Linked DNA regions of Homo sapiens. The protein of the gene in region 2 interacts with the protein of the main gene of each other region in a pairwise test. Each region holds a gene or a part of one and is shown on either strand. Other genes may lie near its edges. The genes, in order: GTF2H2C and FAM43A.

The links.
Region 1: the proteins of FAM43A (region 2) and GTF2H2C interact in binary tests that used the Homo sapiens proteins (3 or more experiments, as listed by UniProt).

The regions. Positions count from the first base shown.
Region 1 is NC_000005.10:69,579,778-69,595,280, forward strand, and holds the end of GTF2H2C (general transcription factor IIH subunit 2-like protein), read left to right. Parts: coding exon 1-87; intron 88-2,588; coding exon 2,589-2,652; intron 2,653-5,816; coding exon 5,817-5,920; intron 5,921-6,476; coding exon 6,477-6,579; intron 6,580-10,550; coding exon 10,551-10,590; intron 10,591-12,301; coding exon 12,302-12,421; coding exon of another isoform or gene 12,422-12,434; 3' UTR 12,435-15,444; downstream 15,445-15,503. UniProt on the Homo sapiens protein: Component of the core-TFIIH basal transcription factor involved in nucleotide excision repair (NER) of DNA and, when complexed to CAK, in RNA transcription by RNA polymerase II.
Region 2 is NC_000003.12:194,676,491-194,692,961, reverse strand, and holds FAM43A (protein FAM43A), read right to left. Parts: upstream 6,709-16,471; 5' UTR 6,136-6,708; coding exon 4,864-6,135; 3' UTR 3,925-4,863; downstream 1-3,924. Other genes in the region: uncharacterized protein LOC124909474, read left to right, coding at 6,709-7,102, 7,544-7,624.

The DNA.
Region 1 (15,503 bases), on a different chromosome or scaffold from region 2:
ATGAAAGCCATTACAAAGAGTTGCTCACACATCATCTTAGTCCTCCTCCTGCTAGCTCAAGTTCTGAATGCTCACTTATTCGTATGGGTAAGTGTTTTTATGTTTTTAAAAAATACATATCTAGGCTCTCTATTTTCATTTGCACAAGTTATTTTAATATTTAAGAATTTTTAAAGAAAAAATATGCTTGTTGAAGCAATTTTGGAAAGTACAGAGAAGTGGAAAAAAAAAATTAAAACTACCAGTAGTCCTGTCACCCAGAAAATACTGTTGGCTTTCTTTATTTTTAAGGCTAGAAAGGTATAAACTGTGTTTATAGAAAAATACTTATATTAAGCCGGGCTCGGTGGCTCACACCTGTAATCCCAGCACTTTGGGAGGCCGAGGTGGGCGGATCTTGAGGTCAGGAGATCGAGACCATCCTGGCTAACACGGTGAAACCCCATCTCTACTAAAAATACAAAAAATTAGCCAGGCGTGGTGGCGGGCGCCTGTAATCCCAGCTCCTCGGGAGGCTGAGGCAGGAGAATGGCATGAACCCGGGAGGCAGAGCTGGCAATGAGCCGAGATCACACCACTGCACTCTAGCCTGGGCGACAGAGCGAGACTCTGTCTCAAAAAAGAAAACAAAAGAAAAACACTTATATTAAAAATTTTTTAAAATAAGCTACAAAGGCCGGGCGTGGTGGCTCATGCCTGTAATCCTAGCACTTTGGGAGGCCGAGGCTAGCGGATCACCTGAGGTCAGGAGTTTGAGACCACCCTAGCCAACATGGCGAAACCCTGTCTCTACTAAAAATTACCAAAAAATGGCTGGGCATGGTGGCAGACATCTGTAATCCCAGCTACTCAGGAGGTTGAGACAGGAGAATTGCCTGAACTCAGGAAACGGAGGTTGCCATGAGCTGAGATTGCGCCACTGCACTCCAGTCTGGGTGACAGAGCAAGACTCTGTCTCAAAAAAATAAAATAAAATAAAAATAAAATAAGCTACAAAATTCTCTGTACTGGATGATCAAAGCTGTGTAATACAAACTGTGCAAAGACAAAGCTTGCAGGGAAGTACACCAAATTGCTCAAAGGAGGGGAAATTATTGGTTTTGGATCACTTTTTTTTTTCTTTTTTTTTTTGAGATGGAGTCTCATTCTATTTCCTAGGCTGGAAGTGCAGTGGTGCGATCTCAGCTCACACTGCAACCTCCGCTTCCCAGGTTCAAGCAATTCTCCTGCCTCAGCCTCCCGAGTAGCTGGGATTACAGGCGGGCACCACCATGCCCAGCTAATTTTTGTATTTTTAGTAGAGACGGGGTTTCACCATGTTGGCCAGGCTTGTCTTGAACTTCTGACCTCATGATCCGCCCGCCTCGGCCTCCCAGAGTGCTGGGATTACAGGCTTGAGCCACTGTGCCCGGCCTTGGATCACTTTTTTAAAATGTTATTTTCTTCTATTTTACAAAAATGTTACAATGAAAATTTATTACATTTAGATTGAAAAAAGTATAACTTTTAATAGAAAAATAATCTCCTTATTTAATATGTATGTTTTTAAATGTTAATGAAATAAAATGCTTTTCTACTTTTGGCCTTTTATATTACCAGTCGACCTCTCTTTTCCACGGTCTTCTCATGTGTTTAATGATGTCAGTAACTATCAACCTTATTGTGTGTTTCAAGGATTGAGTTAATACAGATGATGCGTTTAGAATAATGCTTGATGTAAACATTCAATATATTTTAGATCTTATGTTTGGCTAATCTTTTTGATTTACTGATATATTTTCTTATTTCATTTTAAAGTTATTTAAATTTATAATTTATTTATTAGAGTCCTTTAGGAATGTTAACCCTTCTCAGTCACCCGATGCAAATATTTTTCTTGTTGGTTATTTGCCTTTACTTTTATTTATTTGTTTTGATATGTAGATACATTTACATTTTTTATGTAATATATCTTTTTAAAAATGGTTTCTGCTTTTCCTGAACATGTTTTCAGAATTTAAAATTGTATATGGAAAACAAATTACATGAAAGATTTGAGCATTTCAAAATTTTAAACATAAAAGCATAAACGTAGATAAAATGAAGGTGTACTATGATATCTTCAGTTTTATCAGAAATGATGTAAAAATTACAACCTCTTTAAAAAGTAGTGTTAATCATTAAGTTAGAAAATATATAGCTGGGCATGGTGGCAGATGCCTGTAATCCCAGCTACATGGGAAGGTGAGGTGGGAGAATCGCTTGAACCCAGGCAGTGGAGGATGCAGTGAGCCAAGATCATGCCACTGCACCCCAGCCTGGGTGACAGAACAAGACTCCATCTCAAGAAAAAAAAAAAAGAAAAATATATATATGAACTTCAGAATCTGAGGTCATATATAGACAGGTCTTTCCCCCGTTTCCTCTACTTTTTCTTGTAGCTTGGAATTAGTCAGTTTCATCATGCTATAATAAGCTTATCTGAAAGGCAGTAAAGTGATATTTTGTACAACTTCATTGGCTTTTTGAGAAGAACATTTTTAGGTTCTTAGTCCTAGAATTCTGCTGTTTGCTTGGAAAAAGAAAGTAATACATTTTCTTCTATGAAGGATTTCCTCAGCACACCATTGCTTCTTTATCTGACCAGGATGCAAAACCCTCTTTCAGCATGGCGTAAGTAAAGACCTTGAAAATATCAGTAATAATGTTTTTACATTTTTAATTCCTTCTTTTAAGTTATAAATTCAAAAGATAGGCAATGAAGACTATCTCTATATACTTGTATGGAGTGATCTTCAGGATAAATTACTAAGTAAAACAGTAGTTTGAGAGAATTTTGTAGTATGCTGCTAATCACCTAAGAAGAAAGTAGAGATGTAAGTGGATGTATATACTTGTTTATGTTAATAATAAAAACAATAGTATGGAAATAATAAAAACTTAAAAGGGGTGGAGGGGGAAATTTTTTTTTTTAATGTTTACCTCAGTGAGTGTGTAGGGAAAAGCAAAGGGTTAGACCCTAGACTTTTCTGAATGCATCACTTAATGATAGGGACACATTCTGAGAAATGCGTCATTAGGTGATACCATCATTGTGCAAACATCACAGAGTGCACTTACACAAACCTAGATAGTGTAGCCTACTAACATCGCAGTTATATAGTATAGCCTATTGCTCCTAGGCCGCACACCTGTACAGCATATTGTGTACTGAATAATGTAGGCAGTTGTAATGTAACACCTAGTGTTTGTTTAACTAAACACAGAAAAGGTACAACTAAAATGTATTATTTTATGGGACCACTGTCATATATGTGGTTCATCACTGACCAAAATGTTATATAGAATATTACTGTACCTTGTTTTAACTTCAGAGCTTTGTATTTTACATAATTATAAAACAAAATTAAATTTAAGAGAGTAATTCTTAAAAATCACAAACAAGATTTCTGCCTCCAGCCAAAAAGCTGTAACAGGGACTAGATTTACCCTCCTGTCAAAAAAAGCAGACAAAATATATAAAACAGTGGTTTTCAGACGTTGGACAGCAAGCCTTGCTGATAATGATCCCTGAAAGAAAGGAAACAAATGAGATGGGCCCTAAGAGCACTCCACCTTACTGCCTGGATGGAATTTCCAGGCTGCACACAGAGGCTGGAGATGTTGTTGAGTTGAAGAAACAAAGTTCATCTTTCAAGGAGGCTGAGATGGCGATAATTTTGCAGGTCAGAGTACTGGAGAGGAAAGATCTGCACAGAGAGAACTCTCTGGGGAGCTGCATAGACTTGCTCATGAGTCAGCAGCTGAGCGTTGATCAGCCCTTTTGTGTGAGGAGACTACTGGAAGTCAGGGAAAAAATCACTGGAAAGCAGCAGACAGAACAGTTTCCAGAGCTCACACAGAGAACATTCATGTTCTCACCAGTCTGTATGGAAATACCTCTTAACATGACAGGCATTGAATAGAGTCCACAGTAATGGGATCAAATTAATTCTATCACAAGAACTGGAACCAGAGGCAAAAAGAAAAGAAAAGAAAAGAAAAATCTAGACTAACAGCTGTTCTAGACCAGCCTACCAAAGTTTAAAAGCAAATTTTGAAGAGATTAAACTATTTCCAAGTTAATGAAGTATATTTCAGAACAAACCCTTAAATATTTGAGGGAATACAAAAAAAAAGAAAAAGAAAAAATCCAGCCCCCAAAACAAAGCAAAATTCACAATGTCTGGCAAAGCAAAATTCATAGTCCCTGGCAGAAATTACCAGGGATGCAAAGGAAAATATGACCCATAAAATGGAGAAAAATCACAGAATGGAAACATACCCAGAAATAACCCAGTTGGTAGAATTAATAGACAAAGGGTTGGGTGCGGTAGCTCATGCCTGTAATGCTAGCACTTTGGGAGGCTCAGGTGGGCAGATCACTTGAGCCCAGGAGTTCGAGATCAGCACAGCCAACATGGCGAAACCCATCTCTACTAAAAACACAAAAATTAGCCAGGCCTGGTGGCACACGCCTGTAATCCCAGCTACTTGGGAGGCTGAGGTACAAGAATGACTTGAACCCAGGAGGTAAAGGTTGCAGCGAGCTGAGATCGTGCCATTTCACTACAGCCTGGGTGACAGAGCGAGACTCTTATCAAAAAAGAAAAAAAAGAATTAGTAGACAAAGATGTTAGGACAACAATTATAAATGTACTCTGTATGTTCAGGATGTTAGAGAACATGAGAATGGTAAGAAGAGATATGGAAGGTATAAAAAAGACCCAAATCAAACTTCTAGTGATGAAGAATACAGTGTTTTAGATGAAAAATATATTGGCTGGGATTAACAGCAGATTAGACACTGCAGAAGAAAAAATTAGTGAATTCAAAGATAGTAATAGAGACTTTAAAAATGAAGAGAAGGGCTGGGTGTAGTGGCTCACATCTGTAATCCCAGCACTTTGGGAGGCCGAGGCAGGCAGATCACTTGAGACCAGGAGTTTGAGACCAGCCTGGCCAACATGATGAAACCCCATCTCTACTAAAAATACAAAAATTAGCTGGGTGTGGTAGCACGTGCCTGTAATCCCAGCTACTCAGGAAGCCAAGGCACGAGAATTGCTTGAACCTGGGAGGCGGAGATTGTAGTGAGTTGAGATTGTGCCACTGCACTCCAGCTTGGGCAACAGAGTGAGAATCCGTCTCAAAAAAAAAAAAAAAAAAATGAAGAGGGGGAAAAAAATGAATGTAGCATAATTGAGTTATAAGACATACTCACAGATTTTAAAATAGACTTTTAGACCAGGCATGGTGGCTCACACCTATAATCCCAGCACTTTGGGAAGCTAAGGCAGGTGGATCACTTGAGGCTAGGAATTCAAGACCAGCAATATAGTGAGAGACCCCCATCTCTACAAAAAGTTATAAATTTTTTTTTTAAATATAGACTTCTTTTGTTTTTTTTTTGAGATGGAGTTTCACTCTTGGCACCCGGGCTGGAGTGCAGTGGTGCAATCTCAGCTCACTGCAACCTCTGCCTCCTGGGTTCAAGCAATTCTACTTCAGCCTCCCAAGTAGCTGGGATTACAGGCGCCTGGCTAATTTTTGTATTTTTTAGTAGAGATGGGGCTTCACCGTGTTGGCCAGGCTGGTCTTGAACTCCTGACCTCAGGTGATCCACCCGCCTTGGCCTCCCAAAGTGCTGGGATTACAGGTGTGAGCCTCTGCGCCCGGCCAAAAATACAGACTTTTAAATAGATTTTTAAATAGTGTCAAGATTTTAAGGTCAAGATAGCATGCTTTCCCGCTCTAACTTTTCAGATCATTATATATTACCCTTTTTCCCCCTACAGGCATTTGGATGGCAATACTGAGCCAGGGCTTACATTAGGAGGCTATTTCTGCCCACAGTGTCGGGCAAAGTACTGTGAGCTACCTGTTGAATGTAAAATCTGTGGTAAGAAAACAACTATTCATTATTCAGTAAATCTTGAATGACTTCTTAATCTGTATTGCTGCTAAAATTAATGTAAATGTTAAGTTATTCCTATGTTTCTGGATTTAATCTGTGCAAAGAAAAATAGATTACTTTTTAAATTGAGTGCCCAGTACTCCACTTCCACGTATAAATGTAGCATTCTAGTTTCCTGATCCTCTTTCTGAAAAAAGTATATTCTTTAAAGGCAGTGCAGTAGATGTAGTAGACATTTTTCCATCTCTTACCTTTATAAAGTAAATATATATAAGAATGAAGAATTAAACTAATAGAATTGTCGAATTTTATTTCATTTATAATATAAGTAAGCAAATAGACCGAGACAGGTTGGTTACACACTTAGTGACAGAACTAAGACTCCATCCTACAATCTTCTGTTATAGCCACAGGTAAAATTAATAACTGCCATCCTAAAAGAAACTGAACATATTCTGCTGAAGTTACATCTTTTGGCTTTTCAGCCGTTGTCTTCATGAGGTTTGGACTACTCAACATGTCTCTCTGCTTAATGTGTTAGGTCTTACTTTGGTGTCTGCTCCCCACTTGGCACGGTCTTACCATCATTTGTTTCCTTTGGATGCTTTTCAAGAAATTCCCCTAGAAGAATATAATGGAGAAAGGTATTTCAGTTTGGACTAATTTATATCTGTTATAAGTGGTAAGCTAATGTTTGAATAGATTGTTACTACCTTAAAAAATAATCTGATTAACTTGGACAAGAGTACTTCTAATATGGAAGATGAGATAAAGAATGCCATAGTTATGATTGAAATGACTCGTTGCTAAATAGATCTGAATCTCCAGAAACCAAATAATTTCACTAAACCCACCTATGTATAAATAGGGGTGATGATTGTACTACTAAATCAGTTTTCCAGAAGGAAAAGAAAAAAAGCCCTGATTGGTAGTATTTGCTGATTTCCATGGTTTGAATACTCCCACCATGGCCAATTTTTAGCTACAATTAACAACCAGCTTTCTTGAATACATATTTAACAATATATCCTTTTGATCCAGTACAATCCAGTCCTAGCACACTACTGAAAATAAGAGGCTCATTCAGCACTTTGGGAGGCTGAGGTGGGAGGATCACTTGAGGCCAGGAGTTGAAGACTAGCTGGGGCAACATAGTGAGACACTGTCTCTTAAAAAAGAAAAAAAAAGCTGGACATGGTGGCTCATACCTGTAATCCCAGCACTTTTGGAGGCCAAGGCAGGCAGATCACCTGAGGTCAGGAGTTCAACACCAGCCTGAATGACATGGAGAAACCCCATCTCTACTAAAAATACAAAATTAGCCTAGTATGGTGGTGCATACCTGTAATCCCAGCTACTCGGGAGGCTGAGGCAGGAGAATCGCTTGAACTCGAGAGGCAGAGGTTGCGGTGAGCCAAGATCGCACCACTGCACTCCAGCCTGGGTAACAAGAGCGAAACTTCGTCTCAAAAAAAAAAAAATCTGGCATAACATAATTTATCTAAAATCTTTAAGTATTTTTACGAATGCTATTTGTGTGAAATACAACAAATAAGGTCTGAAATAGAGGTAGTCAATCCTTTAGAGAATAGTTTTCAGAAAATAAAGATTTACTACTTTTAAGAACATCTAGGATCGGCTGGCACGGTGGCTGACGCCTGTAATCCCAGCACTTTGGGAGACCGAGGCAGGTGGGTCACCTGAGGTCAGCAGTTCGAGACCAGCCTGGTCAACATGGTGAAACACCGTCTCTACTAACAATATAAAAATTAGCCGGGTGTGGTGGGAGGTGCCTGTAATCCCCAGCTACTCAGGAGGCTGAGGCAGGAGAATCCCTTGAACCTGGGAGGTGGAGGTTGCAGTGAGCCAAGATCACACCATTGCACTCCAGCTGGGCGACAAGAGCGAAACTCCATCAAAAAAAAAAAGAACATCCAGGATTTAGGAATCACATTAAACACTTACTGGCTAGCCAAAAACAATTATGTATCCATCTTGCTTTTCACACTTAAGTCATTTAGAAGTCATTCAATATCACCATATCTAGATCAATGTTGTTTTTGAAATTGTTGCATATTTCAGGTATAATTATGGTTTATATAATCAATTGCTTCCTGTTGGATATTTAAGATTTTCTTTTTTTGCTATTAACAAATAATGCTTATATCTATATTTTTGAACATTTGTACAAGTATAAATGCATGGTAAATTCCTAGAGGTAAAATTACTGAGTCAAGAGTTTTACATGTTTTGTGAATTTTGATAGATATTGTAAAGTTGTTCTTCAAAGAAGTTTCATTTATTGTTTTCCCACATTTAGCCAACATTAGGTATTATGAAACTTTTTTATATTGGCCAAAACTCACAGGCAAAAGAAAAAGAAAAAAGTCTCATTGTTTTAGCTTGGTATTTATTTGCTTATGGTTGAGGTTAAATGTAGTAAAAATGAAAAACCCAGTACTATAGAAGATAGAGTTGAAGAAATATTCCAGAAAGTACAATAAAAGGAGTAAAATAAAGAGGTTCAAATAGGAGAGTAAAGATAAGAATACTGGTGGAATTATCCAGAAGGTCCAATATGAGAATGATACGAGAAAAAAAGAAAAAAAGTAGGATAGAAAATCATCAAAGACATAGTTCAAAGAAATTTTATATTGAAGGACAGAACTTTCTAGATTGAAAGGGCCTGTTGGCTGGGAAGGGTGGCTCATAGCTCTAATCCTTGCACTTTGGGAGGCTGAGACTGGGGGATAACTGGAGGCCAGGAGTTCCAGGCCAGCCTGGGTCACACAGCAAGACCTCATCTCTGCAACGAAGATAAAAGAAAGGGACTGCCAAGTGCCTAACGTATTGAAGGAAGGCAGACCCCATAATTGTGAAATTTCAGAATACACAATAAACCATTAACCCTAAACATTTCCAGAGAGGAAAAACTAGGTCACACACAAAGGATCTGGAATTAAAATTGTTTGGCTTCTCATTAGCAACACCGGATGCAGAGAGGGAGCAGTCACCTTCAAAGTTTGTGGTGAAAATTGTTACCAACTTAGATACCCAGCCAAACTATCAGTTAAGTGTAGGTAGAATAAAGACATTTTCAGACTTGTAAGGTCTCAAAAAGAGATTTTTCTGGGGAAGGTCTGGAAGAGGTAGGTGATTCAAAGGAACTGAGAAGGAGAATGACATGGGATCTAGTAATATGTATCTAATTCAAAACAGGCTGAAGAACGGCCTAGGATGATGGTAAGGAGAAATTCCAGAATGATACCTGTGTGTCACATATGGGGAACCGTCCAGTTTGGAGACAGTCAGGATGCTCCAGGAGAGAGATCACCAAGGGGATGAAAACTGCAGAACTCCTGATGTATTTGAACATATCGAGAGGACAGTTAGACTATTCCGGAGAAGATTGGGCCTGAATTAGTGTCAATTATATAGGAAACTAACCTTGGGAATAGCAACACAGTATTTCCAGGAAAAAAAAAATGTTTTAAATAGGGGAAAACTTATGGCTTAGCTGAGAATATTTTTATAGGCATAGTAAACTAAACATTGATTATTGTTCTATCCAAAAGGAAGACTTCACTATGTAGAAAGAATTGAGAATGACACTAGTTAAATATTTATGCATTACTGGGTTCAAGATGATTGAAAGATAATTAAATTCTCTTCTTTCATAGTTGGAGATTTATAGCCAATAACTGTGAAGAATCACAAAGTAGCACTTATTAGAATAAGTGACTATCAAACAAACGTTAGAAAGTGCTTCTGGCTGGGCATGGTGGCTCATGCCTGTAATCCTAACACTTTGGGAAGCCAAGATAGGAGGATTGCTTGAGCCCAGGCATTCGAGACCAGCCTGGGCAATATAGCGAGACCCTGCCTCAATAAAAAATTAGCCAGGCATGGAGATACATGCCTGTAGTCCCAGCTACTCAGGAGGCTGAGGCAGGAGGATCACTTGAGCCCAGGAGGTTGAGGCTGCAGTGAGCTGTGATAGCACCTCAGCACTCCAGCCTTTGAGACAAAGCAAGACCCTGACTCGAAAACAAAGAAAAATAAAGCATGCTCACAGTTAACCTTAATGAAAATAAAAACTAAATTTTGGGCTGTCAGATGACCTTGTATATACTGTGGAATTTTTTTTTAAATTATTGCTATTCTTTTTTTTTTTTTTTTTTTTTTTTGTGAGTCAGAGTTTTGCTCCCGTTGCTCAGTGTGGAGTGCAATGACACCATCTCGGCTCACTGCAACCTCCGTGTCCTGGGTTCAAGCGATTCTCCTGCGTCAGCCTCCTGAGTAGCTGGGATTATAGGCGCCTGCCATCACGCCCAGCTAATTTTTGTATTTTTAGTAGAGACGGGGTTTCGCCACGTTGGCCAGGCTGGTCACGAACTCCTGACCTGAGGTGATCCACCCGCCTCGGCCTCCCAAAGTGCTGGGATTATAGGCGTGAGCCACTGTGCCTGGCCTATTGGTATTCTTAACTCTTTTTCCTGAAAGTCATGTGTAAAGACAAGTACATATTAATTAAAGGATTCTAGTTAGTGAGATTTTGTTGAACTATTTTAATGAGTAAATTCTAAGAAAAAACATTGTTAAACTTTTTTTTCAGATTTTGTTATGGATGTCAGGGGGAATTGAAAGACCAACATGTAAGTTCTTTGGCTTTCTAAATATTAAGTAATGTACAAGAAATATTGAAATCAATGGTACTATAAGTTTTCAACAGGTTGTTAAAGACCAGGCTCATATCAGTTTATTTCTTGTAAAGATAATGACAATAGGTGAAGGTAAAATAGGAACAAAATAGTTTAAATAGTAGTTTTGTTATTCTGCATTCTAATTTTTGCTATAAAGTATTTTGTAATTCATCTTTTTAAAACTTTTTATTAAAAATTTTTTAATTTTTTTCCTCTTTTTTTAAATTCTTTGATTGTTTTGTCTACTTTGGTACACCCTTGTAAAACATGTAATTTGTCTTTAGCTTTCAAGCTAAACTGCATTTAGTCTGAAAGTATTTAAAATATTTTCTTCATATTATACTTTAAGCTGTGTGATAACACATTGAAATTGTTTAAGGTGGCCACAGATAATAGGTGATTCTTCCATTATGCCAATGAGAAAATACTTTTTTAAATTTTGAAGAGGGCCAACTTTAATAAATAAATTTGTATAGATGTAAATAATATGGATCACTGTCTAGCTTTAATTTTTAATTTAGTTACATGTTCATATTTAAAACTATATATATTATATAAAATAATAATTAGAAGTATTGCTCTTCCACTGTCACAATTTATAAAGTAATTTTATTAAATTTTATATACCTCTTTGACATCAGTAGTTTACTCTTAACTGGAACCACTTTTTGAATCATTTGACAGTTTTTTGGTTTTATTTTCTGAGACAGACTCTTGCTCTGTCACCCAGGTTGTAGTGCAGTGATGCAATCTTGGCTCACTGCAACCTCTGCCTCCCAAGTTCAAGTGATTCTCATGCCTAGCCTCCCAAGCAGCTGGGATTATAGGCGTGCACCACCATGCCCAGCCAATTTTTGTATTTTTAGTAGAGACTGGGTTTCACCATGTTGACCAGCTGGTCCTGAACTCCTGGGCTCAAGCAATCCACCCGCCTTGGCCTCCCAAAGTGCTGGGATTACAGGCGTGAGTCACTACACCCGGCCTCATTTGAGTTTTTAAGAATAGGTCATTGTCTGTGTTGTTTGAAATTTATTTATTCATTCTTTTTTTTTTTTTTTATTCAAAGCCAAATACTTCTGAGATTTAGTGATTTTTGAATCTGTGTATGAAGCTGCCCTGGAAATTTTATCCCAAGGAGCAAGTACTCATATATGTAATGCTGAAAGAACAAATGTAGTTTTTTCCTTTCTGCTTGTCTTATCTGTGTCATTTGACATATTTTTTTAAAGGTTTACTTGAAAGGGAAATATGTTTGCAATTGTGAGGTCATTCCCTAAGAATAATTAAATCGATGTTAAATTTTTATGCTTCTCTTTTTAATTGAATCAATCAGGTGGTCTTGCTAAGCATTCAAAAGTAGCGCTGGTTTGAAGCTCATATGTCTTTCCTAAACCTTAGAATGAAATAATTGAGAGCGAACTGTAATAGAATAGACTTTAAAGACTCAAAAACAAAACCATTCCCTCATTTCTAAGGGATAGTTTTGGGGAAAAAATTAATTGCCTTAGATTTGAGAATATAGAGTACATTGGAAGTAATAAAGTAGGTAGTGGGAAAAAATTGGTAGAGATATAAAAGAGCAAAGCACACCTTGAATGTCATCTAGCTGTGCTGTAATTAACTTTTGGAAACTAGTTTATCACTTTTCTTCTTTTCACTACAGGTTTATGTTTGTGCTGTGTGCCAAAATGTTTTCTGTGTGGACTGTGATGTTTTTGTTCATGATTCTCTACACTGTTGCCCTGGCTGTATTCATAAGATTCCAGCTCCTTCAGGTGTTTGATTCCAGCATGTAGTATACATTGTATGTGTTAAAAAGAAATTTGCAACTGTGAATAAAAGGACTTCTTTAGAAGAAGCTTCATTTAAAACATGAAAGGATAATCTGACTTAAGAAACTTTTTGCTAAGAAAAGGTAATATTTTATTAAATTTTAAATTTGTGTTGTCACAGAAATACCTGAAATTCAGTAGTACTTCATTCAATTAATTTTGTTTTCTATTATTTTGAGTTATACTGTTTTCAAAGTCATTATGCAGTATGTATAAACTTATAAGAATTAAATTGATGTGATAATTTTATGTTTTTATAATTAAATATAGAATCTTTATGATTTATGTTAATTCATTAATTTAGTGTAAGAAGAAAGTTAAGTCTGAATGTAAATTCAGTGTAAGATGAAAATTTATCAATACTTATGAAATTAGGCTGGGCGCTGTGGCTCACACCTGTAATCCCAACACTTTGGGAGGCTGAGGTGGGCAGATCACTTGAGGTCAGGAGTTCGAGACCAGCCTGGCCAACATGGTGAAACCCCGTCACTACTAAAAATACAAAAAATAATTAGCCGGGCATGGTGGTTCACGCCTGGAGTCCCAGCTACTTGGGAGGCTGAGGCAGGAGAATCGCTTGAACCCAGGAGGCGGAGGTTGCAGTGAGCCGAGATTGTGCCACTGCACTCCACCCTAGAGTAAGACTCCCTCTCAAAAAAAAAAAAAGTTATGAAATTAATACATATGAAATGATGTACTGCTACATCCACCAGAGAGGTCTTTTTAGGTTTAACCAAACATCTGGAATATGTTTATCAAGTTAGTACATCTGAAATTATTTGTGGCTATGACCAACAGAAGTCACTTTACATTAAACATTCAAACTCACAAGACTGCCATGGCCATACTTGGTACCCGCTTACTCAGAAGGATATTAAACAGAAACAACAGCCTGCCAGCACAGCATCAAGCAGTCCTCATTAGCAGTGGAAGTCCTTGTAGCAGTCCACTAGTACAATTTGGGTGCAAGGAGATAAGATCCTCCACAGGCATCAAGGAACCAATATCTCTTAACAATTCCATAAACACAGCTTCCAGGTATCCACAAGGGATGTGTCAATTTCAAGAGTCACTACACTCAGGAAAGCCTAAAGCTTGAAGACTCCATTTATTTATAGTGCATCCCAATCCAGATACGTAACAATTAACGAGTTATTTTTACTATAAGCAAAGTTGCCTAAAATCATAGTTGATACTAACCATGGTTAACAGAGCTCTAAAGTTTGACAGAAAGTGAGATTCAAATCCTTTCACTCTCATATGCTAAACCTTTTGCCTTACTCTGGGTCATCAGAGAAATTTAGGTGAGAATGTATGATGAAGTCTGTGTTTTAGATTCAATGCAGATATATCATTGTGGGCAGAACTCTTTCTGGTTATATCCAGTTAAGAGTAAATCAGGCTTTCAGCCGGGCGCGGTGGCTCACGCCTGTAATCCTAGCACTTTGGGAGGCCGAGGCGGGCAGATCACGAGGTCAGGAGATCGAGACCATCCTGGCTAACACGGTGAAACCCCGTCTCTACTAAACATACAAAAAATTAGCTGGGCCTGGTGGCGGGCGCCTGTAGTCCCAGCTATTCGGAAGGCTGGGGCAGGAGAATGGTGTGAACCCAGGAGGCGGAGCTTGCAGTGAACCGAGATCGCTCCACTGCACTCCAGCCTGGGCGACAGAGCTAGACTCTGTCTCAAGAAAAAAAAAAAAAAAAAAAAAAAAAAGAGTAAATCAGGCTTTCATAGCAAAGGTATGTCTATTTTATGTATATAAACTTCAGGTACTCTAACTTGAGTTTCACTATGAAATTTGTGATTTTTTTTTTTTTTTTTTTGAGATGGAGTCTTGCTCCATCGCCCAGGCTGGAGTGCAGTGGCCTGCTGTTGGCTCACTGCAACCTCCGCCTCCCAGGCTCAAGCCATTCTCCTGTCTCAGCCTCCTGAGTAGCTGGGACTACAGGCGCCTGCCACCACGCCTGGCTAATTTTTGCATTTTTGGTAGAGACGGGGTTTCACCTTGTTGATCAGGCTGATCTCCAACTCCTGACCTCAGGTCATCCACCCACCTCCGCCACCGTGCCCGGCCGAAATTTGTGATTTTATAACTAAGAATTTTTAGTTAAGAACATTATCAGTAAAGACAACGTAATCCCACCCTGGAGAGTTTATTGGGAGCCCAGGAATATTCATTTTTAATACACACACACACACACACACACACACACACACACACACACACTGATCAGAGTAACGGGAGTTTCTCTCAGGAGTCATACTCCATGAGCCTGGACCCAGTGGTTCTTTATGTGGAAACAAATTTCACCTATAGGTAACCTGGTAACTGCTATTTTCTTCTGTGTGCTCTGTCAACAAAGGTATCAGTGGCTTGCAGGAGATGCCTTTAATACTCAGAGCATTCTATCTCCCCCTATCTGGTTTAGAAGGAAGGCCTTCATTAGTTACCTTTTGAGAAGTTACTAGAACTCTCTATTAGAGACTTACCCTCCTGACCTGATAAAAAGGGATACCCATGTCTCTATTAACAGCTTTATCTCTTTCTACAGTTTTGGGTATTTGATAAGGTTAAGGCAAAATTTTAGTTATGCTTAAGGAGGAGTTCTTTTTTCACAATTACAGAGAAAATTTTGGTTTGTTGAAGATTGCAGAAACAGCAATGGTAATGTAAGACAGTTTTGGCCTTTAATTTTTTTCTTGAAACTCTACAGTATACTACAATAGTGAAGGAAACTATTATCATGAGAGATCCTTCTGAATAGGATGTCTTTCTGAGTTCCACTATTCAGTTACAAAACTCCTTAATGCTTAAAATTCATTATGAAAATTAGATTTATTTTAAATACTTTCAAGTGTATACATTTTTATTTCATAATTTTTATTGTCTTTTAACTAAAGCATTTAGTTCATTTATATTTACTGTGTACCTTTTATATTTAATAAATATATTTACTTATTAAAAGATTACCACTGATATATTTTATTATAAATATTATATTTATAAATATATTATTTATATTTATATT
Region 2 (16,471 bases):
GTGGATCCCTTATGAATAGGTTAATGCTCTCCCTGTGGGGAGACGGAGGCAATGAGTGATTTCTCTCTCACTCGAGAGCAGGTTGTCCAAAAGAGCCTGGCACTGCCCTTCTCCCTATCTCTTGCTTCCTTCCTCTTGCCATTTGATTCCTGCTCCAGTTCACCTCCCGCCATGAGTGCAAGCAGCCTGAGGCCTCACCAGAGCAGAAGCTGGCACCACACTTCTTGTACAGCCTGCAGAACCTTGAGCCAAATAAACCTCTTTCCTTTATAAATTACCCAGCCTTGCCAGGCATGGTGGCTCATGCCTGTAATCCCAGCACTTCGGGAGGCCAAGGCGGGTGGATCACTTGAGGTCAGGAGCTCAAGACCAGCCTGACCAACATGGTGAAACCCTGTTTCTACTAAAAAAAAAAAAAAGCACAAAATTAGCCGGGTGAGGTGGAGGGCACCTATATTCCCAGCTACTCGGGAGGCTGAGGCAGGAGAATCGCTTGAACCCGGGAGATGGAGGTTGTGGTGAGCCAAGGTCATGCTATTGCACTCTAGCCTGGGCAACAAGAGTGAAACTCTGTCTCAAAATAAATAAATCAATAAATATAAATAAATTACCCAGCCTCAGGTATTCTTTATAGCAACACGAAACGGACTAAGACAGTGGACATGTGCAACAAGCCTGGAGCAGAGAGTGCAGAGCGCCCTGGGCCTAGCACCCTCCTGGCTGCCTGGAGCCCTGAGTAGTTCCCCATGTGTCAGTCATGGCTCCTACCCCAGCAGTCCGTGCACATTTCTAGCTCTGTCATGCATCACTTAGCAGCAGATGCTGGGACTACTGATGCATACCACACAGAGGAAAGAGTTCTGCTTATTAAATTACTAAATCCTGTTTAAAAAGACGGCAACTTGCTCCTAATAGAATTTCTATGTTTCTCGTGATCCTTGGCAACTACAATGAGATTTTTAAATCTCCAGTATGGTGCCAGGGGTAGATTCTTCCAACCAGTTCTCTCTCTACTCACAAGCAGAACCCTCAAAAACAGCTCTGTCCCCTGGGAGGGAATTGTGCTTTCTTAGTATAACAGAGCCTTTCTAATTTGGTTAAAATCTGTTCTGCTGACTGTGGGGCAGTGAGAGGTGTTTCTTTAGGGAAACCATGTGTGTCCACACACGTGTGTGTGGAGGGGGTTCTCTGAAGCTGTCATAGTTGGGAGGGTATGAAATACTATTGTTTATTTTATGCCATTTTATTCCTCCCACCTTCCTGCTTACATATGCGACAAATGGTAGAAGTGAACATGGGATGTTTGTGCTGTGAGGAGTCGATGAATGCCTCCTCCCAGACTCACGCTGCCACCCCTGGAGGACCGCGTGCCGCCGGGAGTCACCCTGTTTTTCATGCAGTCGATGCTGCATTGTTGAACACGGAGGATTACCTAGGCTGGGAAAGAACGTGGAAAGTGTCTCAGTGCATTTAAAGTACCATCAGGTTAAGTCATGGAGAAACATGAGCCTCACTTTGCAGGAAAGAAAAGCTAAATTTGATGAGTAAACCAGACTTCAGGTGTTTTCTGGAAGGTGTATTTTATCTAATGACTTAGCTTTGCTTTTGTCGCTCCATTCTTTTCCCTCTGAGCTCCAGGAGCAAAGTAGTTTTAGGGTCTTTCTTTTATTTTCATTCAAAACATCTCTTCTTACTCTAGTGATATCATCCCTGGAAGACTGAGAAGTCAGAAGAGGTGAATCACGTGTCACCTTCACATCTCTTCTAGAATTACATCAGTCAGAGCTCTGAGGTGCAGTGGGGATCGATGCCAAAAAGCAGAGGGGAGGAAGGAGAGATGGGGAGGGCACAGACGGAGGAGGAAGGGAGCTGGCTCTTTCCAGCCTGCTTATTTTCTTCTTCCTCCTCCTCAACCTTCAAGCCCCCCTTCCTATTTATAAATCACATGAGAGGAAATATCAGACTTTAAAGAGATGGCTGCTTTATATTTATTGATGGTGTTGGTTTCAACACTATTTGCCTGAACTTTTGGACCAACCACCACATGCCTGTCAGTCACAGATGAAAGCCAACATTGGCATTCTCACAGGACACTTAAACTAGATAAGAATGAAGACACACAGACCCTGCCCTGTCTCCCAAGTATTAGCCATATTATCTTCACTCTGTCTCATCTCTTCATCAGTTTCAAACAGCAGAGGAACTTGGCTATGCATGGGAATAATTTCAAATGTGAAATCTAGTCACGCAGGCTAGTGATGGCCCACACAGCCGTCTGCTTATCAGGTGAGCACACTGGTGTGGAAGGGCTGGGATGGGTGGCTGGGCTGAGACTGGACTTTCCTGACCTCTCTCTAGCTGGGGTTTTTAATGTCATTCAATGATGTGTATCTGAGGTATTCAGGGAGAGGGATCGGGACGCACAACCAAGCCAAAATATAATAGATTCAAAGGCCTGGACGTCCTAAGGCCCTTAAGACTGAATTTTTTTTAAATGTTTTCCACTCAGCTGGGTACAGTGGCTCACGCCTGTAATGCCAGCACTTTGGTAGGCTAAGGTGGGCAGATCACCTGAGGTCGGGAGTTTGAAACCAGCCTGACCAACATGGAGAAACCCCATCTCTACTAAAAATACAAAATTAGCCCGGCGTGGTGGCGCATGCCTGTAATCCCAGCTACTTGGGAGGCTGAGGCAGGAGAATCGCTTGAACCCGGGAGGTGGAGGTTGCGGTGAGCTGAGATTGCACCATTGCACTCCAGCCTGGGTGACAAGAGTGAAACTCCGTCTCAAAAAAAAAAAAAAAATATATATATATATACACACACACACACACACACACACACACACACATATTTTCCACTCGCCCCCTTTGCTTTTCTTTTTTAAAGATAGTTCTATGCCTGAACCATTCCTGTTAATTAGGAAGAAAATCTTTCACCCCTCTTTCCTCTATGGTTCCAGTGAATTCCAGACTCCTTAGGATTTCTGGGTCTAGCTGCTCAGAACATATTTATGATGAAAACAAAGCAAAGTGGCCTCAGGACACCAGGGAAGGCCAGGAGTGAGATCCATTTCTGCAACACAGGAAGAGAGGCCTCAAGGGGCAAAAGGAAAATATAATTTGCAGAAGGCACAGTTTTGGCAGCATCTTATTACAACTTCCAGCTGATCGGGTGTAGCCAAACTAGAGACATCTGTTTGGAGTTTACAACAGAAACAAACACACAGAAAGCATGAAAGCGCTGAAACATGCACACCCATACCGCGCTCTAACAGCTCCTCTCCCCCTCGACCTTCGCGCCATCCCCCAACTGGGTCACACTGGGTTGTAGAAGGGAAGGAAATGGGCTCTGCAGCCTGCCCAGCCACCCACCCACCTGCACCGTGACTCACTCACACCAGGATCGGAACTTGTCAACTTTTCTCTCCTTGGTTTTCCTCCCAGGAAAAACAGAGATGGCCCCACTCCTCAGAGAACTCCTCTTTGGGTTTCTAGTTCATCTTTAAAGCTCCCTGAGCTGTTTGTAAAGGAAAAGATAAGGTAGTCTCCTTACGCTTGATTATTAGCATGGCCCACAGAAGGAGGTAGTAAAATCTCAGCAGATCTGGAAGTCACTCCTCCATAAATAACCTCACAGGTCTGGGAGTGCGATATGGAACTCACCGTGGCCTCTCCAAAAGACCAGAAAAAGATCACACAACTTAATTACTGAAAAATACAGGATAATACAAGAAAAGGCTGGTCCCAGACACAGCACCCAGAGTTGTGGAGGTCCAGGAAGGCCCCAGATGGCGCATAAAGTGGACCTTCCTTCCCTAATTCTCTCCAAGCACAGGAAAGGCCAAAGACTGTCTTATGACACCATCCCAGGGTCAGACACAGCCTCTCCCACCCCAACGCAGCAGTTCCAGACGCTCACCTGTTCTGTTAAATTTTCCTCTTTATTCTCTCCCCACTGGCGTGCAAACAGAACCAGAACAGTGCTACTTTTAAAAAATAACAAAATGTTTTATACACATTTCTGTATATACAACTGAACAACATTTTACATGTTTCTTTTGCACAGCAAAAGATATAAACATTCAGCTCTGAGAACACAGTTATGTACAGAAAAAAGTCAAAAATACTTCACAACAGTGCAAAAATATTTTACACAGTATCATGGAGTGAGATCTTTTGAGCAAGAGGAAGGGTGTGTGTGTTTCTAAAGGAAAACTCCTTTTTAAGATATTGGATGTCTTTAACTGTAAACAAAACGCGACTCTCTTTCATCTCCCCCCACCCCCCAAACAGTTATTTGAAGAATTTGGCAACATTTCAGGGGTCTGAGTCTGAGGTAAACAGCCAGAATTCTTGCACCAAAAAGAACCAAGGGCTAAAGGGTTGCATTAAAGCCTCAAACACCTTGAGAGCAAATTTTTTTTTTTTTTTAATGAGATGTCAGTGACAGCGCAGGGCCGCTCCCAGGGGGTGGGAGGAGGAAGTGAACCCCTCCTCCTCAGGCCCCAGCTGCCCCACAAACAGGAAACTGGCCAGGCACCTACGGCCTGAGACTAGGAACTTCAGCCAACCTTCCCTCACCCGCATCCCAGAGGGGTGCCTCTCTCTCCCTCCTGGCGGGGTTTTCCCCTCTCAAATCTCCCCGCATCCCCACGCGCAACAGAGCCAAAAGTGCTGGGGCGGGAGCGGGGGCCGGGAGGTAGGGGAAAGCGGTCGGGGGAACGCTGGACCTGGGCTCCAAGTGTAGGTCTGGGCCCCAAATGCCCCATTTCCCCCTTCCTGGGGGCGGGCAAGGGACAGGGAGGTTGTCGGGACCACGGATGGGTAGCCACGGTGGAGCGCCGGCGACGCGCGGAGGAGCTCAGCCCGAGTGGGGCTCGTCTGCACTGGCGCCGTCGGCCTGGCGGGACGAGTCCCCGGCGGTGGCGGAGGTGGCGTCAGGGCCCCCGCCCTCGATGGAGCTCTCGCTGCCCGTGCTGTCGCCTGACAGCAGGCGCGTCACCCGCAAGTCGGCCTGCAGGGTGCGCACGTCGTTGCCGAAGCTGAGCTCGCCCAGGTCGCTAATAAGTTGCGACAGCTCAGCCTTCATGTCGGAGGCGCTGCCCAGCAGCAGAGGCGGCGGCCCGGCCCCCGGGCCCAGGGAGCCCCCGCCGCCTCCTAGCGCCTCCCCACGGCCATTCTCCAGAGTATCCAACAAGTCCCCGCACTCAAAGTGCATGGCGACCACTAGCGCACGCTGCGCCTCGGCCTCCTCCTCTGCTGGATCTCCCTCTGCCGCACGGTTCTCCTCCTCCTCCGGGCAGCCCTCGGGTTGCTCCTCTTCCTCTTCCTCCTGCAGCTCCTGCTCCAGCTGTTCGCCGAGCAGGTCCTCGGTGATGGAGCCAAGCTTGGGCGCGCTGCGGCTGCGCTCCACCGGCGGTTTATAGCAGCAGGGTCCGTGTAGGAGCAGCTTGCGCAGCGGCACTAGCGGGATGGTGTGTGCGCCCACCAGCTCCTGCTGCTGGTGACGCGCGTCGTCCCGCCGCTTGAGGCGTTTAAATTCCGCCAGCGCGTTGGCCGACGTCTGGTAGAGCAGCAGGGCCATGGCCTGCGCCTTTTCGGGCTTGGACACCAGCACGGCGTGGCAGCGCAGCATCACGGCCTTGTGCTTCAGCTCGTGCCGGTACACCCAGGCGAAGACCTTGGGCAGCCGCGCGTCGGCCACGCAGTAGGTGACGCGGTGCAGCAGGTAGAGGTGGCCCGGGCGGCGCAGCGCGCGCTCCTCGGCGTGCACCATGCGGATACCCTGCGCACTCACCGTCAGCTTCATCTTGGTGCCCTGACGGCCCGCCTCGCTCTTGCTCCAGATCTTGCCCACAGCAAGGTCGGTGCAGCCGTCGCCGCGCGCCTGGATGGTGGTGGCATTGCCCAGGTAGAGCACGGTGTAAGTTGGGTCCTCGCTAGTGATGTGCAGCTTCTTGCGCTTGGAGCGGAACATGCTGCCCACCCGGCTAAGCGCGCCTTCGGGGCACGCCCGCGCCAGCGAGCTGAGCGCCGAGTAGTGCAGGCTCACAGCGTAGCCCTTGGGCTTGGACGCCTGCCGCGGCGGCGCCTCGGCCAGCAGCTCGAACTTGTGCTTCTTCCACGGCAGCATCTCCGGAGGGCGCCCCGGCGCAGCTGGGCGGCGGCGGCGGCGGAGCGCCGGGTGCGAGGCCCGCTGAGCCACCGGCCCCTGCCAGGCTCGGCCCGGGCAAGATCGAAGAATAAAACTACTGGGAGCGGCCCTGTGGTAGGGAGTTGGGGGGAGGGGAGCAGAGAGAGTGCTTAGGAACCCCGCAGGAGGTGCGGGTAAATTCTCTAAAAAAGAAAATATTCAGCTTCGAGTGTGCAAAAAAGGTTGGTGCGGGGGAGACACGCGCGCACACAGAATTACCCCAGCCTGGGCAAGGGCGAGAGCAAAGAGTCTCAGGCAAGCAACAAAATGCAAGGGAGAAAGAACGAGCGTAGAGTGGAAAATGTCAGGAAAAAAGCTAGAAGCGCGCGTGCAAATAAAGAGAGCCCCAGCAACAGCACCCGGGATGGTGCAAGAATATGCAGGAACTCCTCGGCGAACGTGAGGTGGGTCCCCTAACACACACAACCCTCAGGACTGGGGCCAAAACCCGCGGAAACTCTACAGCGAGTGTGCCTAGGGGCCGGTGCTCCCCACCTCCGAGGGGTGCTGGAGATGGAAAGCCCCCCGTTTGGGCTGGTCTCAAGTCAGCAGCTCGCCCAAAGTGCGGTCGGATGCTGGGTCCGGCTGGCCGCGGCGGGCCCCGCGCAGCAGTCCCGCGGGGACTCACTGCATCTTCGCTCCGCCGGACGCCGGGGACTCGCGCTCGGCCCGCTCAGTGTCCGGGCTGGCCTGGCCGAGACGGCGCTGGGCTCCGAGAACAGGGGACGGGCATGGCCGGGTCCGGGAACCGCCGCTACCTCATTTCTTCCCTCCGAGGCGGTGTCCAGCTCCGCTCCCGGGCTCTCCACGGTCTGCTGCCCGCCTTTGCAGTGCGCCCTCTCCGGTGCTGCGAGCGGCGTCCGGCTCGCCTGCCTCACATCCTTGCCGTCCGGGAGGAAGATCTCGGGTAAATATAGGCCGGCGCGAACCATTCGCCGCGCGGGGACAGGGGAGGAGCAGAGAAGAGGATCTGTTTTGGGCTCCGACTCCGGGCGGATTCCTGGTTTCTTAAAGGGACCGCGTGACAGCCATTGGTCGAGGGAGCGGGGAGACCGGTCCAATCCTCCAATTACATCCCAAATTTACCAGCATCTCTTTTGTCTATGGAAATCACTGGGACCTGGGGTTACCCCGCAGCAAAAAGATTTGAATCCTGACACTCCACCCCCCAGGCTGAATTGCCACTCACTGAATACATGTATGTCTAGATCGAAACTTCTGAGGGAGGTGGCAGAAGATGAGATTACAGATTATAATTTCCTGTACAAAAAGTTTGGGAAAATAGTGGTTTCTTCCTTGTGTGACGGCTTTCTGAGAATGACTGGGTGCTGTTTAATATTATTTTCAGAATTGTATTCCATTAAAGAAAAGAGAGAGGCACAGAAAACACCAAGGCTTATCTCTCACTATCTTGAGCTCGTATTCACAGGTAAGCAGCAGACAGTGTAAAGTGAGGTGAGTGGTAACATGATTGGGGTGACTACTGTAGAATACCGTCAATGAATAAGGCTTTTCCCCGTCCGAACCCCGGCAAGACCCCCTCCTGCTGTCAGGCCTCAGGGTAGAGCAGTTTTCTGAGATACACACAATTTCTAATGCTCGTGTGTCGTTAGGACTTAGTTTACTTTGGCAAGCCGGTCATGCGGTTTCATTCTATCATTGACATATTTTGGATGAGAATTCCTAGTAAAAATTCAAATGACGTTTTTTATTTAAGTGACAAATAATGCCAGGCCACCCTCCAATGGGAGTGATAATTGCATCAGTATTGCTTTTATCATGTGCCAACTGGACAGTGTAGTTGTCTTCTGACCGGCTTGACCCTTAGCCAGTAACTCATTTCTGGGCCCTTGAAACAGCCTGCTTGCCTCTATGGTATGGTCAGTCAAAGCAAAAAGACGTATGGCTGGAGTGGGATCAATGTCCGAATGATCCTGCATCAAACTCCCAGCCTGGTCCTGGAGGAGGACAGTGATCCCTTCCCACCATCCCAGTCCCCTGGGGATCTTTGATGTCTCTGGCTTCCACGCCAGGTCTTCATGCCAGAGTCACTGCAACCATACCTGGAAATTCCCTTGGGATATTCCAACAAAATAAAACTGACCCCTGCCCACCCTCTACCTTTGCCAACTTTTAACCTTCCTTTGAAATCTAACTCAATTTTCTCAGAGTCGTTGATGCTGAGTTTCCATTTAAGTTACTTTGCTGAGTTTCCATTTAAGTTACTTTTCTGACTACCTTTTGGTGCCCGGCCCTGAGCTAGGAGCAGACGGGATTCCTGCCTCCTAGTCCAATGAAGGTTGTAAACTCTACCCAACTCTGGGTTTCCACTGGACTGTGGGTTCTCTGCAAGTACCCTGTATCCCCAATATGGTACAAATAGGCACTCAGTAACTAGAATTAATGAGCAAGATATGCATGTGGACAAGAAGACAGAGTGGGCTAAATGCTATGAGAAAGACTCAAAGCACTATGAGAAGCTGGAGGAAGAAAGCATTCATTGTGACTAGGAAAATCAGAAAAGGCTTCATGGAGGTGGTGACCTTTGAAAGATAAACAGAATTTATCCAAATAGGAAAAGACTGAAGGGCTTTATGGGTATAGAGGGTAGCAAAATTACAGAAGCATGAAAATGCATGCATAAGGCCAGGCGCGGTGGCTCACGCCTGTAATCCCAGCATTTTGGGAGGCTGAGGCGGGTGGATCACTTGAGGTCAGGAGTTCAAGACCAGCCTGGCCAACATGGCAAAACTCTATCTCTACTAAAAATACAAAAATTAGCTGGGCATGGTGGTGCACGCCTGTAATTCCAGCTACTTGGGAAGTTGAGGCAGGAGAATCCCTTGAACCCGGGAGGCGGAGGTTGCAGTAAGCCGAGATCGCGCCACTGCACTCCAGCCTGGATGACACAGTGAGACCGTCTCAAAAAAAAAGAAAGAAAGAAAGAAAGAAAATGCATACACATGTAGTAATTAAGATGGAGCTTGTAACAATCAAAGAATAAACCTTCCTGATTGTGTTTTTTGGCTCTCTTACACTCCAAGGGAAGGAATGGCCTCTTCATGGCTAACTGGCCCCACAGGGTCCTTCAACCAGAGCTATAATGCCTTACTCCTCAGCTGCACTGATGGGTTAATGGAGGGATACCAGACATGCTGTTGGAATGAGGTAGTTAGTACTATAATAAGCCATTTAAGGCAACATTAATTCCTTAAATTTCTAGGCTATCTTGTAGTGGCAATGAAGGAGATAGCACACGCTCTAAAGAACAAAAACTCTGGTAAAAACATATCAAATGAGGCTGTGTTCAGTGACCTTTAGTAGGTCCATAATCTTGAACTCCACAAAAGCAGACATCATGTTTAAGCAGTGATCATTTCCAAATCGCTCAAAGTTCCAAGGCTCAAGAGGGTTTGGGGAAGAGGAAGAGGGAGTAGTAGCAGGAGCTAAGGCTGGTCTCAGCCTCAGCGAGAGGCACCACTTTGCACTTCATGCAGTGGCATGGACCCCAGTGGCCCACAGAGGCAGGGAGGAGTCTACTGGTGGGCCGGGCTGTTCAGCAGCAGCCGGAGTGCCAGTCCCAGCGGCACAGGCCCACAGAGCTGCTCCTGTTGACGAGGCTATGTCACGCCTTGACCGCCTTCCTAATAAGCTTGTTTCCAACCTTGGGAGAACAGAAAGGTTCTAGGCCAGTGTGAACACCCTGGTGTGAGTCATGCCCTGGAGGAGAACCCGCGGTCCCCTTGTGGCCTGGACCTGTGCCAGCCTCTAGGGCCCGCCTCACCTTATGGAGAAGCTGACCACCCCACCTGAAGCACACATCACAATTAAGGCTGCGTTTCTTCAGCTGGGAGAGCTGGCAGCACCATGTGGGAGTCCACATCACAGATCTGAGACAGGGCAACTCCAGAACAGACTGTCAGCAAAGTGGAGCTGGGAAACAGGTTAGAAACTGCAGTGTACTTTTTTAATGACACTGCCCCCATCTACTGGTAGCAGGCAGAAATGCTGCTCGGTGGATGGTTTCTCGTCAAACCAGATAAGCTAGTGGTTGAAACTACACACAACCGGGTCGCAGTTGGAAGGAAATGCTGCCATCAGGAGTCCCAGCCCTAAACTTGACATCCAGGAGTAAGCCTTTCATCTCACAGAGGATTTGGACCAGCTTCCTCCCACCTTACGTCTTACATAATGCTCCTTCCTCTCGCCCCTCCTCCAACATCCTACTCAGTGGACATTGACTTCAGAGATGACACATGACGAATCTGGAATCTTCAATGTCATCTAGTAAATACTTGTGGAGAGTCTCCCATGAATGTCACATAGTTGCTGGGGATATAGCACTAAAGAGGACAGATAGAGAGGTCTTTGCCTGCATGGGATTTATAGCCTCTGGTGGAGGCAGGAGGGCAGACAGTAAACAAAAAACTAATGAAATAGCAGATAGTGAAAAGTCTCTGGAGAAAAGGAGGCAGTGCTAGGAGTGAGAGGTGGCTGGTTTAGACAGCATGGCCAGGGAAGGTGGCTCTGGGCAGAGACAGGAATGAGATGAACCTGCAAAGAGATGGGGGAGAGCATTGCAGCCTGTGCGGCCCAGTACGCAGTCACCAGCCACAGGCTGCTGCTGCCACTTGAACCATAGCTGGCCCAAATTTAGACGCACTACGAGTATGAACTACACACTGGATTTTCAGGACTTAGTAAAACAAAAAGAATGCAAAAAATCTTCATAATGTTATATTCATTATATATTGAATGATAGTATTTTGGCTATGTTGATTTAAATAAATTATTCAGATTAATTTTACCTATTTCTCTAGCCTGGTCAACATGGTGAAACCCCGTCTCTACTAAAAATACAAACATTAGCTAGGCATAGTGGTGCATGCCTATAATACCAGCTATTCGGGAGGCTGAGGCAGGAGAATCACTTGAACCTGGGAGGCAGAAGTTGCAGTGAGCCGAGATTGTGCCACTGCGCTCCTGCCTGGGCGACAGAGCGAGAGTCTGTCTCAAAAAACAACAACAACAACAAAAACTTACCTATTTCTTTTTGCTTCTTTAAGGTGGCTATCAGACACCTTGGTTTTAGCCCAGTGAGGCCCGTGTTGGGTTCTAACCTGCAGCGCTGTGAATTTGTGTTGATTTAGGCCACTACGTTCGTGGCAGTTTGTTCCAGCAGCAGTACACCTCCCATCCAGCCATCTTTTCCCTTATCCTGACTCTCTTCCCTCTCCCACTCTCCTCAACACATACGCTAAGTCCTCACTAGTTTCCCAAAGCCACTGGCTCCCCCAGAGCTCAGCAGAACTGACCGGGTGCTTCCCCCACAAAAACGAGGCAGTTAGAGCAACCTCCAGCCCCTGCCAACCTACAAAAAGCACGTCCACACCCAAGCCCACCTCCCTCCTCCAGGCTCCGAAGTCTCTCCTCCCTTCAACCTGCCCCTCTGAAAGCCACCTTCAATACTTACCAAACCACACCTCTGACCTTTTCTCTCTTCCCCTTTTAACCTTCAAAATGGCTTCCCATCAGCCACACGGTACACTCCCACTCCTCAGTATAACACATGAGAATGTTCAGGTCTGGCACCTGCCTATGTCTCCAACCTCATTCTTTTCTCCTGGACTCCTAATTTATGAACCAGCCACAGAGAATAGCCTATGCTTCTCCCCATGCTCATGAGAGTGGTTTTTCCCTTCCTGCCATGCCTTATGTGGCTCTATCTAACTGATATGACCTCCTCCTGCCATTTGTCCCGGCCAAGGCTTACTCATTCTTACAGAGCCATCTTGGATACCATTTTCTCCAGGTAAACCGCCTAGGCCTACTCATCGCCTCTCCACATGCCCTTGTGTGCATCCTTACCTCTGCACTTGCCCTGTTATAATATTGTCTTTTTTTGAGTCTTGCTGTGTTGCCCAGGCTGGAGTGCGTGATCTTGGCTCACTGCAACCTCTGCCTGCCAGGTTCAAGTGATTCTCCTGCCTCAGCCCCTTGAGTAGCTGGGATTACAGGCACCCACCACCATGCCCGGCTAATTTTTTTTTTTTTTTGAGATGGAGTCTCTGTTGCCCAGGCTGGAGTGCAACGGCACAATCTCGGCCGGCTGCAACCTCTGCCTCCTAGGTTCAAGTGATTCTCCTGCCTCAGCCTCCTGAGTAGCTGGGATTACAGGTGCGCAAAAGCGCGTCTGGCTAATTTTTGTATTTTTTAAGTAGAGACGAGGTTTCACCAAGGCCAGGCTGGTCTCGAACTCCTGACCTTGTGATCTGCCCACCTCGGCCTCCCAACATGCTGGGATTACAGGCGCGAGCCACCGTGCCTGGCCTATAGTATCGTCTTTAACTCTCTGTCTCCCCCAGTAGACTATGGGCTCCTTATGGCTGGTGACTGTATTTTATTCACTCTTTGTATCCCCAACTTCCAGCACAATGCCAGCCACCAAATTAATGTATGGCAAGTGTTTCTAGAACGAACATTAACCATGTGTTTATTTTCAAAGTCATGGGACTGTCATGAGCACAGACTGTCAGAACTGGAAGAGCGTTGTCTGGAAGGCCCTTCGAGATAATCTAGTCAACCTCCCCTGGCTTTACAAATGAGGACACTGAGGCCCTGACAGCGCAGGTGCATGGCCATACAGTAACTTAGTGGCCACACCAATATGAGGATCCATGTGGTCTGAATCTCAATCCAGGGCCCTTTCCTGTGGCTAAACGTAAAGCCAAAAGCTTCTAAACACATATATGTATGTAGAACCCACGTCCTTCGTTTGCTCCCCCTCTAGGAAGAGCTGCTTGGGGGCTCACAGGTTCATTTGATGATCTGAACAGGAGCAGAAAGCCAAACATACTTCTGTGACTTGACTGAGTGGCCACTCGCTGGGCCCCTTAATGAAAAGTGCACTTTGCTAATGGCTCTCACTGCCCCCAAAGACGTTAGAGTCAAGCATGACTGTCACAGGACTCCACCAGTGAGACGGGTCTCTGTTGTGGTCGACATCGCACTTGGGTCTCTGAGAGTCTGGTAGCCCATTTCCCATTGCAGGAGAAATAACTTGTAGTCAAACAGTGCCCAGACCAGGGCCCTCTTTAGGAAGGAAGTGGACTTCATGCTAAGCATGGAAGGAGGGGCAGATTGCTGTCAACAGAGGCAGGAGAGAGCGGTCCAGAGGAAGAAAATGGCCCATGCAGAAGGTAGTTAGTGTTGAACATCCAACAACTGGGCAAAAGGAGGGAATGCAAAAGCACTGAGCCCCTACCGCATGTCAGACACTGTGCTGAGTCAGATCCGTCCAAACATTTCATGCTCCTAAGAGTGTTGTCAGGTCTGTGCTAGTCTCTTCATTTTTCCGGGGGAAAGGACCACAGCTTGGAGGAGTTAAGAAATTTGCCCAAGATCTCCAAAGCCTGTGTTCTTTGTGTTTGGGTCAGGCCAGGGCCTGACTCCTGATGGCCCTGAATGGCAGGAGGAGGCGTCTCATAAGCTGTGGTGAGTCACTGGAGGTGCTAGAGCAGGGACATGCCACGATCAGAGCCAAGGCTCAGGTACACAAGATTGGCCAAGAAGGAATCCAGACCCCCGCCCTCCAGCCCTGACTCACCGAGGGTCCCGGAGCACGCTGCTGCCCTTCTCTGCCTATTGGGGAGCTGAGCAAATCCTCATTCATTTCTAAGATCACAAGAAAGCTGCAGGTATTTCCTGCAGCTGCCATAACAGATTACCATAAATGAGGTGGCTGAAAACAACAACAATGTATCCTCACAATTTTGGAGGTTGGGAGAAGGCAGCATCCTTCCTTGCATCTTACTGCCTTCTGATGGCTGCCTGTCATCCTTGGCGTTCCTTGTTTTTTAGACATATTGCTCCAGTCTCTGCCTCTGGCCTCTCCTTCTTTGTCTTCTGCATATGCAGCCAAATGTTTCTCTTTCTAAAACAGTAGTTACTGGATTAGGGCCCGTCTAATCCAGTATGAGTTCATCTTCACTTGATTACATCTGCAAACACCCTTTTCCAAACCTGGTACAGTGAGTGGCTCATGCCTGTAATCCCAATATTCAGGAGGCCCAGGCAGAAGGGTCATTTGAGCCCAGGAGGTTGAGACCAAGCCTGCACAACATAGTGAAACCTCATCTCAAAAAAAAAGACCTTTTTCCAAATAAAAGCACATCCACAAGTACTAGGGGTTAGGTCTCGCTCTGTTGCCCAGGCTGGAGTGCAGTGGCACTATCATAGCTCACCACAACCTCGACCTCCTGGGCTCAAGTAATCCTCCCACCTCAGCCTCCCAAAATGCTGGGATTACATACAGGCATGAGCCACCAGGCCTGATCATGTCTTTGTAAGGGACACCATTAACTCAAAACAGAAGCCATGTTTCCAACAAAGCGCGCTGAAAATAAATAAATAAATAAATATAAAAGACAAAAGATCAAAACAGAGCCCATGACAGGAAATTGCAGGAGTGAGAGAGAACCAACAGACAAGTCAGAGGTCTACGAACTCTGGAGGTCACCCTGTGACCAAAGCTCCCAGAAGTGTTCTCACCATGCCCCTTGCCTTGGAGCCTCTCCTTTCATGGGCTGCTTGCTTGGAACCTTGGACGAGGTTCGCACTTGGGTCTCTGAGAGTCTGGTAGCCCATTTCCCATTGCAGGAGAAATAACGTGTAGTCAAACAGTGCCCAGGCCAGGGCCCTCTTTAGGAAGGAAGCGGACTTCATGCTAAGCATGGAAGGATGGGCAGATTGCCGTAGACAGAGGCAGGAGAGAGCGGTCCAGAGGAAGAAAATGGTCCATGCAGAAGGTAGTTGTTCTGATGGACAACCTGCCATCAGGAGTCAGGCCCTCGCCTGACCCAAACACAAAGAACATAGGCTTTGGAGATCCAGGCAGAAATGCAAGGGCACTAGAAGGAAGCCAAGAGTGATGAAATCATGAGCCTTACAAACGAGCCTTCTCCTCAGTGCCACCAAAGGCAGGGACCAGTCAAGATGGGTTTGTCCCCTCTGAAGATGGAAGGAGGGGACATGTTACCCCTACATGATTAACTTTAAAGCAGAAACCATGGATCTTTCATTCAAACTGATTCTTTTTAACATTTCCATTTGTGTTAGTAGTATCTGTGACTAATGATGGCTGAATTTGCTAAATGTTGGTTCTCGGTACCCTCAACTATCTCATGACAATGAGGGCAAGATGTACTCTTTTTCTCATGTGACATGCTGAAGGCACCACCCTGCTTTTGCCAACCTAGGCACCATTTCTGAGACCATCACTGTTCCCTTGCGATTTCAAATACTGGGATGAGGCAAGGGATAGCATAAAAAGGAAGAGAACCTACCAGGGTCAGGAATCTGTTAAGTACCTTAGCAGTTCTTTATTCCAACACCCACTTTGAGGCTTGAACCTGACTTAGAACATCTGACACCTGATTATCTGGTTTTTGCTTGAATGCCTCTGGTGGCAGGGAGCTCACTACCTTACTAAGCTGTCCAATATGTCTTTGAGCCCCTCTGATTGTAAGAAGTTTCCAACAAATTGAACCTCAAATTATAACCCTGTGATTTCTACCCATTTGTTCTGGTTGTTCTTGCCTTGTGTCTTCTCAGAACAGTCTTCTCTCCTTTCCCTATGACAGTCCTCCACATCAATGGAAATGGTTCCCACATACCCCTGGAGCCTCCCTCCTTAGGCTAGTCTCATTTCCATCACCTTTTCCTCATACGACATAGTTGTGCGTTCCAGCACCATCCAGGTTTACATGCATATATATATTAGGATATTTACTATGGTTTACATGCATATATGTATTAGGATATTTACTATGGGGAATTAAGGAGATGGATCACTTTCAGAGACAAAACATAAAATCCTGGTGGTCAGAAGCCCTCTTAATGGAGTAAGGTCTACCTGGTGGTGTAGTTCATGGCTCCCTGACTTGAGCTCTTTAACCCTGGCTGAGTCTCTCTATTAGGCTGATCACCACTAAAGTGTAAGCTCTTCAGGGCAGGGAGTTCGTCCAGTGCTGAATCCTCAGAGTCCTGTGATGAATGAACCAATGAATGAATGAATGAATGAATGAATGAATGAATGAGTGAATGAATGAATGGATGAGTGAGTGAATGAATGAATGAGTGAATGAATGAATGGGAGAAACCTAGGACTTTCCATGTACAGATTTTAGAGTTGGTGATTATTAATTCTACTTCTAGCCTCCTTTATTTTACTTTATTTGCTTAACTTAACCCTATTGAGACTCAACTTCTACAGCTA